Linked DNA regions of Homo sapiens. The protein of the gene in region 1 interacts with the protein of each later gene in a biochemical or structural test. Each region holds a gene or a part of one and is shown in the gene's direction. Other genes may lie near its edges. The genes, in order: POU2F1, RXRA and POU2AF1.

The links.
Region 2: the proteins of POU2F1 (region 1) and RXRA form a complex in vitro, tested with the Homo sapiens proteins (2 studies listed by BioGRID).
Region 3: the proteins of POU2F1 (region 1) and POU2AF1 are reported together in a solved structure, tested with the Homo sapiens proteins (2 studies listed by BioGRID, with this or other methods).

The regions. Positions count from the first base shown.
Region 1 is NC_000001.11:167,223,877-167,227,525, forward strand, and holds part of POU2F1 (POU domain, class 2, transcription factor 1), read left to right. Parts: intron 1-3,649. UniProt on the Homo sapiens protein: Transcription factor that binds to the octamer motif (5'-ATTTGCAT-3') and activates the promoters of the genes for some small nuclear RNAs (snRNA) and of genes such as those for histone H2B and immunoglobulins.
Region 2 is NC_000009.12:134,427,356-134,431,004, forward strand, and holds part of RXRA (retinoic acid receptor RXR-alpha), read left to right. Parts: intron 1-1,752; coding exon 1,753-1,885; intron 1,886-3,649. UniProt on the Homo sapiens protein: Receptor for retinoic acid that acts as a transcription factor.
Region 3 is NC_000011.10:111,351,611-111,355,280, reverse strand, and holds the end of POU2AF1 (POU domain class 2-associating factor 1), read left to right. Parts: exon of another isoform or gene 1-705; coding exon 706-1,020; 3' UTR 1,021-3,026; downstream 3,027-3,670. UniProt on the Homo sapiens protein: Transcriptional coactivator that specifically associates with either POU2F1/OCT1 or POU2F2/OCT2. It boosts the POU2F1/OCT1 mediated promoter activity and to a lesser extent, that of POU2F2/OCT2. It recognizes the POU domains of POU2F1/OCT1 and POU2F2/OCT2.

The DNA.
Region 1 (3,649 bases):
GTCAAACTGATGATGTCATTGGACAGAGGACAAGGTGCAGTTAATTTGATTTATTGTCCTGAGGTGAAGTGTAGCAGTGAAGCCTTCTCATAGGGAAACCATTTATTTCGGGTCAATTTCCTTTATAGCTGCAATTTAATCACTACTGAGGCCGTAGATATTTTATACAAAATGATAAAATGTACATTGGATTTTACAAGCAAAATTTCGCTGTTACAGTTTTTGTAATACAGAAAAGGATGGATGTTGTTAACTGGCCTTATATTTTGGTTCACTTTTAATGCTATTGTAAAAATTCATTTCCTCAAAATTCTCAAATGGAGTATTTGGGTTTTAGATAGATAGTCATAGAAGTGACCCATATAAATGTTTGTTGTGATCCCCCAGACTTTTATAAGAAACTGTGTTTCTTAATCAGAGCATGGCTTAGGCTAATGGAGAGACCATTTGCCTTAGAATCCATTTCAGTGAATAAAGCAGAGTTGAGAATGAGGGCTGTGTATTCTTTAAGGTGGAAATGATAATGTTGAAAATAAGGTAGAATACTCACAGGAAAGCATGTGCTTTTAAAACAGATTTTTTAAAAAAAATTCAGAATTCTTTTTGGATTTATCTTAGTCTGGACAAGTTTGTTCATTTTGTTTTGATTAGTGATTTTAAAATTGTTCCATTGCAACAGTGATTGCACTTAGAATTTTTGACATATTAATAGATTTTCTTGTAAGACATTTCTCATATTTTTAATTATTAGTTTATTTTAAGGTGATGATTAAAATTCCCTGAGAATGTGATAAAATTGCTTTATTTCTAACCTGAATTTGTGATCCAATTTTGATAGAGTATTTTAGGTTACTTTTGAACCCACATGAGTTTATAACCTGCCTGTCTCCTTTTGCATCTGTCAAGTAGTTTCCTGCGTATTTCTAGGAAATCCATTGTCACTGTCTTCTTTTTTTTTTTTTTTTTTTTCCAGACAGAGTCTTGCTCTGTCTCCCAGGCTGGAGTGCGTTGGTGCGATCTCGGCTCACTGCAACCTCTGCCTCGTGGGTTCCAGTGATTCTCCTGCCTCAGCCTCCTTAGTAGCTGGGACTACAGGCATGCGCCATGACGCCCGGCTAATTTTTGTATTTTTTGTAGAGGCGGGGTTTCACCGTGTTGGCCAGGCTGGTCTCGAACTCCTGACCTCAAGGGATCCACCCGCCTCGGCTTTCCAAAGTGCTGGATTACAGGCGTGAGCCACCATGCCCAGCCCGTTGTCACTTTCTTAACTCTCCCACCTATTAATTACAATGATACTTTTGAATCAAGGTCTTGAAAATTCATGTGACAGCTGACCAACTGTTTTTGATTTCTAAAGGACTGTTCTGCTTCCAAACCATTACCGTAAAAGCAATTTTTAACCTCTTCCCTCAAATTAGTTTGTAATTCCTTTCATTTTGTCATTGTCAAAAATCCCAGTAGACAAGGAAAAAACAAACCGTAGCTATTATTCAGGTTCAAATGAATTCAGGTGTAGTGTTCTGCCATATTTTAAATTTACTATTCTCTACATCAATAGGTAGTATAAAGCAGTGTAAATAAAATATGTTTCATTGCTGCCTAGTTTGAAGTAATTGTCAATCTGCCATTCATCTGGTTAGTGGATTTTGCAATAAGTTCAGGGCTCAAAATGTTACGTTGCTCTTCTCAAGCCACCAAAGATGTTTAATAGACCCTTGAATATCTTAGGCAGGTGGTTCTGAAATAACAGAAGTGGAAATTTGAATGTTATCTTTAAGTATTTTCTATTAAAAATTGAAATATTTGACCTGCTTCTTGAATCTGTATTGCTTCATCTTGAATTTATTTGTGTTTTTTAAGTTGGTCACTCATTTTCATGAATGTTTCCTTTGTACTTGGAAGACTGTAATATTATGTAGTAGTGATTGCCTTGTTGTTATCGGTTATTTTTGTTTTGTTTTTTAATTTTGAAACCCCATAGTTGTAATCTTTGCATATTAGTCTTTCAAGCACCATTAAAAATAATGTTGTGTGACTCATTAATTTGCCTTTATATAATTGTGTTAATTACACAGTTTTTGTGATTAGTAAAGACTTGCTATGAAGCCTGATTTTAAGCAGGAATGTGTTTTTCCTAATGAAAGTGATTGCATTTGAATTTAGAACTATTCAGGTAATTTGCGTTTAGGGAACAGACCAAGTCACAAACAAAACATGCCCCCTTTTGGTTATCCATGTTCTTGTTTCTGATCCCTCCTTAAATGCTAAATGCCTGAGCAAATGTACTTACTATTTCTTGGGCGTTAGAGTTGAAAGTTGTTGATTTGATTCAGTGACATATCTGCTTTGAATTTCTGTACCCTTTCTGCATGAATTTTTTCCTTTTCCTTTTTTTGGGGTAACTTTGAGTCACCATTTTGCTTACTTCTTACTGTGTTGCTTAAAGGATGTAAATATCCTTTTGAGTGGTTGAAAGGGATAATAATTAAGGTTCACAGAGAATAGCAGTTTCCTTATGCATCTTTCGCTGGACATTTTTGTGCATTATTGACATTTCATAAGTAAAGAGAATTGAATAACTGTAGATTTTAATTCTTCTTAGGAATAAATTGGTTTGTTTTGTACCGAAGTATTTCTGTGTTCTAAACAGGTGATGAGCTCTTATAAACTGTTTCAGCAGTAATAACAATGGAAACAAAAATAGCCTGAGTAGAGCTATTGCCTGACTTACTTGATCCGTTTACAGTATGTTTAGAATTTGGAATATGAGAATTGTCTTGAGTTTCAGAAGTTCTGATTTGAAGATGCTCCTTGCATACAGTGCATGTGGTTATGGGGTTCTGTGTGTTTTTACTATGGGGTGTGAATTTTTTGAGCATTGGTATCTTTGTATACTCAGTGACTAATAGAGCTCTTTTGTTTTTGGGTTTTATTTATTTATTTATTTATTTCCAATTAAGCAAGCACTCAAGATTTCAGTGTTGCCTACATTTGCTGACAGGACTAGTAATTGAGCAAAAGAAGAATCAGCAAACCTCTAGATTTATCAGATTATCTTTTATTCATTTATTTTCTCTTATTTTTAATTTTTTTTAAGAGATGGGGTCTTGCTATGTTGCCTAGGCTAGTCTAAAACTCCTGGGCTTAAGCAGTCCTACTGTGGCCTCCCCAAGTGCTGGGACTACAGGCATGAGCTACCACACCTGGCCCAGATTTCTTTTAAACTGCTGGAACTCCTGGACATTTATCCGGAGAGGATACATTATACTAACTTTTTTTTAACAGCCAATGTTCACATTCCACAAAGCTAAGTGTTTGTAGTAGCTTTACTAAGTCTTCAATATTGAAAGTCATAGCAAGTGCAGTTTATCACATTATTTATTTCATAATTCTTTGTAACTTTATGCTTTTTATGTTGGAATATAGAAATGGTATATGAAATTAAATCAATAATAATAATTATTATGGCAGGTTTCCCCCCCTCTGTTGAACTTTCTCTTTGCAATAGAAGATATAAACAGGAATGGCTGGAAAATGAACAATATGCTGTGTGTTAAACGACTCATTTGTGCTTAAACATATGATTACCTTAATGGAGTTGCACTGATACCTTAAAGGGAATATATTTTTATATGGAAAAGTGACTTAG
Region 2 (3,649 bases), on another chromosome or scaffold:
TGCCACCTGGCAGGGAGAGGGGATGCATGACAGGCGGGGAGGTGCCAGTCCCGAGTCTGTGACGGTATTTCCAGCCCTGGCTTTTCCATCAGACCGCCCGTGGTGCCGTCTGCATGCTCCCACGGTGATGGGGCACAGACCCCACCGTTCCTCCCTCATTTTGGTTGCACAGCCTGGGGCCAGTTGGGTGCCATCCCTGCCTGGTCTGTCAGCACACCTGGGCGGGGCGGCCTCGGGGGTGGGAACTCCCTCCTGGGGCCCTGGGATTACTCAGTTGTGAAATGGGGAGAATGGGGACGGTGACACCTGCCCCCGGGTTCCCCATGACAGGGTGGGTATGTGCTGGGAGGGTGTGGAGGGCCGAGCCGGAGCTGGCACGGTGGTCCCCACCAACTTCTTGCTGATCACTTACCCCCTCATGCCTCAGTTTCCCCCTCTGTAAAACAAAGTTAATGCCAGTTTTCCAGGATTACAGTTGGGATTAAGTGGGAAATTAATGACAGTGTCGGCCATAGAGGCTGGAGCCTCTAGAGCGCTCAGGGAGTGTGGAAGGTGCTGAAGGTGACTGTGTGACTGCAGGTGACTCCATGTCACCCTGTCTATAAGAGCTGTTAAAACAGCAGTGCGTGTGTGCGCGAGGGTCCCTGACTGTGTGACTGCAGGTGATTCCACGTCACCCGGTCTCCAGGAGCCCTTAAAACAGCAGTGCGTGTGCACGCGAGGGTCCCTGTTTCTTCCTCCCCGATGCCTGCTCTGCTTCATCTGCACTGGAACCTCATGTTGAGGGGCTGCTGTTACCTAACTGTCTGCCCCCCAGGGAACCCCCACTATGTTGAGAGGCTGCTGTTACCTAACCACCCGCCCCAGGGAACCCCCACTGTGTTGAGGGGCTGCTGTTACCTAACCACCTGACCCCCAGGGAACCCCCACTATGTTGAGGGGCTGCTGTTACCTAACTGTCCCCCAGGGAACCCCCTGATGTTGAGGGGCTGCTGTTACCTAACTGTCTGCCCCCCAGGGAACCCCCACTATGTTGAGAGGCTGCTGTTACCTAACCACCCGCCCCAGGGAACCCCCACTATGTTGAGGGGCTGCTGTTACCTAACCACCCACCCCCCAGGGAACCCCCCGATGTTGAGGGGCTGCTGTTACCTAACCACCCGCCCCAGGGAACCCCCACTATGTTGAGGGGCTGCTGTTACCTAACCACCCGCCCCAGGGAACCCCCACTATGTTGAGGGGCTGCTGTTACCTAACCTTCCCCCCTGGGAATCCCCCCGAAAGAGGCTGCGGCTCTCACGCACCTGCCTTCAGTTGGATAACCTGCTGTTTGGTGGCATTCCACGAAGGGCACACAGATCCCCGAGAGTCCTGGGACCCTGCTGGCAGCAGTGGTTCTGGGGCCATCCTGGGAACATCCCTGGGTGCTCTCCCACGTGCTCCGTGGCAGGAGTGTCCTGCACACGCGGGAGGAAGCTTCTGGGGCACATGAGTTTGTGAGCTCCCGGGTTCCACAAAGCTCAAGGGACTTTGTGTGGGACTTCTCAGGGCCTTTCGTGTGCCGGTGTGTACTGTAGAACGGGCATTCTCAGGAACCTCTTTTCTGTGGAACACTTCATGGGATTGGGGTTCCAGAGCCTGTCAGGATGGGTCGGTGACATGCTGCCTCTGTAGGGTCCCACCAGGGGCTGGGGAAGGGGCGAGCCCCGTGGGGCCTGGAGACAGCTGAGTGACTGTGTGCCTCCTCCCCAGGCTGGAATGAGCTGCTCATCGCCTCCTTCTCCCACCGCTCCATCGCCGTGAAGGACGGGATCCTCCTGGCCACCGGGCTGCACGTCCACCGGAACAGCGCCCACAGCGCAGGGGTGGGCGCCATCTTTGACAGGTGGGGGTGGTCCCGGGAGGGGCGAGGGCGCTTCGGTCACCTCCGCCACCAGGCCAGCTGAGTTCAGCCACCTTGGCCCCGGTGCACATCCTGCCTAGTATTATTTCAGTGCATGAAGGGTGCACACATGGAAAAAGAGAAAAGCATGAGGAGGAGGCTCAGAGCCCTGTGCCAGCCCTGCCTCTGGGGCATCTGTAACCACAGGGAGCACTTGGCCTATCTCCCTCCATCTCTTCTTTTTTCACGATCCCATGTATTTATCCGTGGGAAGGAAAGCTTCGTTTCTTTTTAAAGTGATTATACCGTAGATGCAGTTTTGTAAAAGTGTCAATTCCAGTTGGCATGTCGCAGGCTGCTTGAGGCTGGCACGGTAATGCCGTGGCAGCCCGGGGCGTGGTGCGGCCTAACGCCTGTCCCCGTGCAGGCAGGGGTGTCGGGACCGCAGTGCTTCACACCTCCCAGTGGAGCAAAGGGCTGCACCTCAGCCACTTCTCAGGGGACACACTGGAGGAGCAGCACTGGCTGGAGGGCCCACCCTCGTCCGGGCCTGGGTGGTCCGTGTCCGTTCATGTTGCCCTCCTGGAGTGCTGGCCAACTCCGCTCTGCCAGGCGAGGCGGACAGTAGCTTCCTTGTCCCTGTCTCTGCACAGCCTTTTTTTTTTTGAGATGGAGTCTCGCTCTGTCGCCCAGGCTAGATTGCAGTGGTGCAATCTTGGCTCACTGCAAGCTCCGCCTCCCGGGTTCACACCATTCTCCTGCCTCAGCCTCCCGAGTAGCTGGAACTACAGGCGCCCGCCACCACGCCCGGCTATTTTTTTTGTATTTTTAGTAGAGACGGGGTTTCACCGTGTTAGCCAGGATGGTCTCGATCTCCTGACCTCGTGATCCGCCCACCTCGGCCTCCCAAAGTGCTGGGATTACAGGCGTGAGCCGCCGCGCCCGGCCTCTCTGCACAGTCTTTCTCCACGAGTCTAGAGAGCCACACACACCAGACTGGGCCTTCTGGGGACCGGATGTCAGCTTCAGCTGGAGCGGGAAGGCTGGGGAGGGGCACTGCGGGGTCCCTTGGGCAGGGGTCTGCAACACAGGAGCCGTGGGTGGGGAGGAGCAGGCCACCTGGAGAACGTGGCCCCTGAACACGAGAGCCCCAACGTTAGAGGTGAGTAGAGGCCATGCACCGGCACTTACAGGGGGATTAATGCCCCAGCAGCAATGCCCCAGGGGGTGGTTCAGGTCCCAGAGTCCCAAGGGTGATCCTGGAACTTGACCTCCATGGGATGTGCCAAGTGCAAAAGGGTTTGTGGCCGCAGACGGTGGGCAAACGGTAGTTCAAACAGTGTCCTTGAGGGTCTTTGCCGCAGGACTTGTCAGGGCCTTTAAGAAGTTAGTGTACAGGAGGGTCCCCACGGGGGCTGCAGGGTGCAGTGTGCAGTGTGTATTGCCCACAGAAGCTTCTTTAGAGGGGTACTGGGGATATGGCTTTGGGAAGCGAAGCCCCAGCCACTTGCCCAGCTGACAGATCCTTTGTCTGGCTGGTAGAGAGATGGCGATGACAGAGGTTTCAGGGTTACATTCTCTGGGGTCCCACAGCAGTGACTACAGAGGCCCCGGCATTTCCTCGCCTTTTTTGCGAGTGGAATGCAAAGTCTGCCCTCAGTGGCCCAGGTCTTTTCCATGCCCGCTGCCCCATCCCTCTGCAGCTGTGTGCTCCTGCCTCAGAGCAGACATCGGGGGTCCCTCCCAGCTCCTGTTCTGTCCCACCCT
Region 3 (3,670 bases), on another chromosome or scaffold:
TGCCCATAAGTGGGATGGCCATGGAGATCAGCTCAGAGACAGAGGACGATGAGGATGTGGAAGGCACCAGGCAGCAGCAGGAAGGAAGGCCAAGTTTGCTGACAAAGCAGTGCTTCCCCCATCTGGGGATGGCCAGGCCTCCCCATGCTGGCCACCACTAGAGGGGTGGGAGGTGATGGAGCTGTGTTGGCCCAAGGGGACCTCCAAAGCTGTTGTGTGGAGCCCGGACTGTCTTTGTGTCTGGGCAGGACAGTGGCCACCTTCCAGATACAGCTTCCAGGCTGTGGTTTAACATATATTTTCACAGATTTTAAGATGCATATATTTTTAATGTTTTAAGATCTCTGAAATAGAAATGAATTTTGTATTCAACGAAACCTGGAAAATCCTCTCTAATTGGCCTAACCCAATGAGTTCATTACTGTTTGTATTCTATTTCGTAGATGAGAAAAATGAGCCTTCTGAGCAGGAAGTGGCCTGAGCAAAGACATATAGCTAGGAAGGGTCAGGATTGGGGCTGCGGTTGAAGTCAGCCTGGCTCCTCCCTTGGGGAAGACTTTGAGCAGGAGGAGGTGGAGCCCCATGAAGTGAGAAACCAGGAAAGGGCAGAATTGAAGGGGGAGATGGAGACCCCTCTAAGGGCAAGGATGGGTGGATGGGTCTCCTGGGGCTGCTAACCCTCTGTCACGTGTTTTCCTGTCACAGACAAGAAGCTCCGCCACGCCCGCAGTGGGGCCCCCGCTGGAGGGCCCAGAGCACCAGGCACCCCTCACCTATTTCCCGTGGCCTCAGCCCCTTTCCACACTACCCACCTCCACCCTGCAGTACCAGCCTCCGGCCCCAGCCCTACCTGGGCCCCAGTTTGTCCAGCTCCCCATCTCTATCCCAGAGCCAGTCCTTCAGGACATGGAAGACCCCAGAAGAGCCGCCAGCTCGTTGACCATCGACAAGCTGCTTTTGGAGGAAGAGGATAGCGACGCCTATGCGCTTAACCACACTCTCTCTGTGGAAGGCTTTTAGGCGTGGCTCCCACCTGAGTCCTGTTCCCTGAAACTGGGATTTTAAAATGAGCCTGGAATTGAGCCCCAGGTTCATGCTTGTTTGGAGTAGTCATTTCATGACTACACTTTCTACGCACAGCTAGAATTGTAGACCTGTAAACCTTCCTTCCCTTCTTCCTTCCCCTCCCTCCCTCACTTCCTCCCTCTCCCCCATCCTTCCATTCTTCCCCTCCCTCCCTTCTTCCTTTCCAACCCCTTCCTTCCTTTTCCTCCCTCCCTTCCTTCCCTCCTTCCCTTCTCCCTTTCCAACCCCTTCCTTCCTTTTCCTCCCTCCCTTCCTTCCCTCCTTCCCTTCTCCCTTTCCTTCTTTACCTCCCTCCCTCCCTCGCTTCTTCTCTCTTTCTTACTTCTTTTTTCAATTCTGTTCCATTTTGGGAGGTAATTATAGGGATTTTAGCAATAACATTTTATGTCAAATGTTGCCAAGTCTGTGGTCCATGGGCTTTCATTTCTGTCACATTTCATTTCTTGGAAAAGGCCTCCTTCCTCCAGTGCCTGCTGAACCATCTTAGGGTCACTCACACCCTCTGTAATTTTAAGATGTATGTGGTGGCCGGCGGGAAGACCAGCCCCGACAGCACCTCCTGAGAAAGTCAGCCAAGGGCCTACCCTGATGCCAGAGTCCTTGAGCTGTCAGTTCCCACAGTTGCTCCTTTGTTTGCTCTTCTCAGCCTCGGCCAGATTTACAGTCCAGGCAGCAAAATCTCAAGGCCTGGGGCTCAGAGTAGTAAGGGGTGGGAAGTGGGTGGCAGGGAGAAAAGAACATCAGGGTGGGTGGGGACAGGCCAGTGACGAAGAGAGGGACAGAGGAGGGATGGGAACAGGCTGTGCATCTTAGTTGGAGAGAGGGGTGTGGGAGGAAGCTTGAGTTTGATGCAGGGAGGAGGAAGGCTGAGGAATGACTTGGCTCCAGATTACTTGGTTATTAAGAAGAACAATAAACTAAAGGAAAGCATTGCTTGAAGAGATGGTTTTGCTGCTCTCCTTGAGGATACGTGCAAGGGAAGTTGGGCTGTTGTAAACAGGGTGAAGGGTGTGTTTGGTCGGCCATTTCTGTCTCACCTCTAGGCCCTCTGCTGGTGCTGTGGAGGCCAAGACCCCATTAAGCCTAAAGGTGATGGGTCCTCGCCTAGGCTTAGTGCTACCATGTGGGTTTTGTTTCTTTCCTTCCTTCCTTCCTTCCTTCCTTCCTTCCTTCCTTCCTTCCTTCCTTCCTTCCTTCCTTCTTTCCTTCCTTCCTTCCTTCCTTCCTTCCTCTCTCTTTCTTTCTTTTTTTTGGTTTTTTTTGGGACGGAGTCTCACTCCATTGCCCAGGCTGGAGTACAATGGTGCGATCTTGGCTCACTGCACCTCTGTCTCCCAAGTTCAAGTGATTCTCCTGCCTGAGCCTCCCGAGTAGCTGGGATTACAGGTGCATGCCACCATGCCTGGCTAATTTTTGTATTTTTAGTAGAGACGGGGTTTCACCATGTTGGCCAGGCTGGTCTCGAACTCCTGACCTTGTGATCCGCCCGCCTCAGCCTCTCAGAGTGCTGGGATCACAGGCGTGAGCCACCGCACCCAGCCTTTTACCATGTGGGTTTCTTTAGTGTCTTAAAAGCGTCCATAAGCCACCATTCTGTGGAACCAAGGCCCCCTCCACGCAAACACCCTCCCTCCTGGGGACCTCTGGAGCCTCAGCCAGAAGTACCATTAGGTTTAATTTTAATTTGTTTTGCTGGAGAAACATCAGGTTTGTAGGAGACTGAGTTGTTAGCAGGTGTGCTTAGCTCTTGATAGTGAACGTGTACCTTGGGAACTGGCTCACCCACCTGCTAATAGCACCATCGTCACTATTAAGCAGACATTTCAGTTGGTAGAATCCATGTAGAAGTCATGGACTTTTCTGGGAAATGACTTTTCTGGGAAATGACAGTTTCTTTGACATATTTTCTTTGCCCACTTTAAATAAAAACTCTGGAGAAAGTTGTCTGTTTTGGATTTTCTTTTTCTGCTTAAGATTAATTTTGACCCAGATTTCTCTGTGCCTGCCTTAAATCCCAGTACACAAATCTTGAATTGTTTTTATTCAGATATTTTTTAGATTTAAAAGTTCAAGACAGCATTTGAGAAGATGCATTTACATCTTTGTCGGTACTGATGGTAAGTAGGTGGGCAGGGCTCTCAGTCCTATTTGATTAAAAGCCCTGGTTTTCCATAAAAAAAGACACTATGCAAGATTTTTCAGCGTACCATTTGAGAGGGTGCAGAAGCAACCTCCGTAAAGGAGTTAAAGTTGGCAAAAACTAGCAAAGAAATATAGTACTTTACGTGTTTGCTAAGATAAATGGTCTATTTTTTCTCTTATCTTGAGGTCAAATGTCTTGGTAGTAGTCCATCTGGGTTTCTTCCCGAGTTACTCTGCTAAGATGGAAACATTTTCATAAAGATTTGTAGAGACTTTTCTGTGCCAAAGTGTTTCATTTCTTATCAAGTTGATCCCCCTAAGCTTTCAGTCCCATGTTAGACAGTGTGATTAGAGGAAGGAACTTAACACTAGTCTTGTTGACTTTGCAAATTGATCTGTTGCAGAAGAAGATAAAACCAGTCCCCACCGTGCCTGCAGTCCA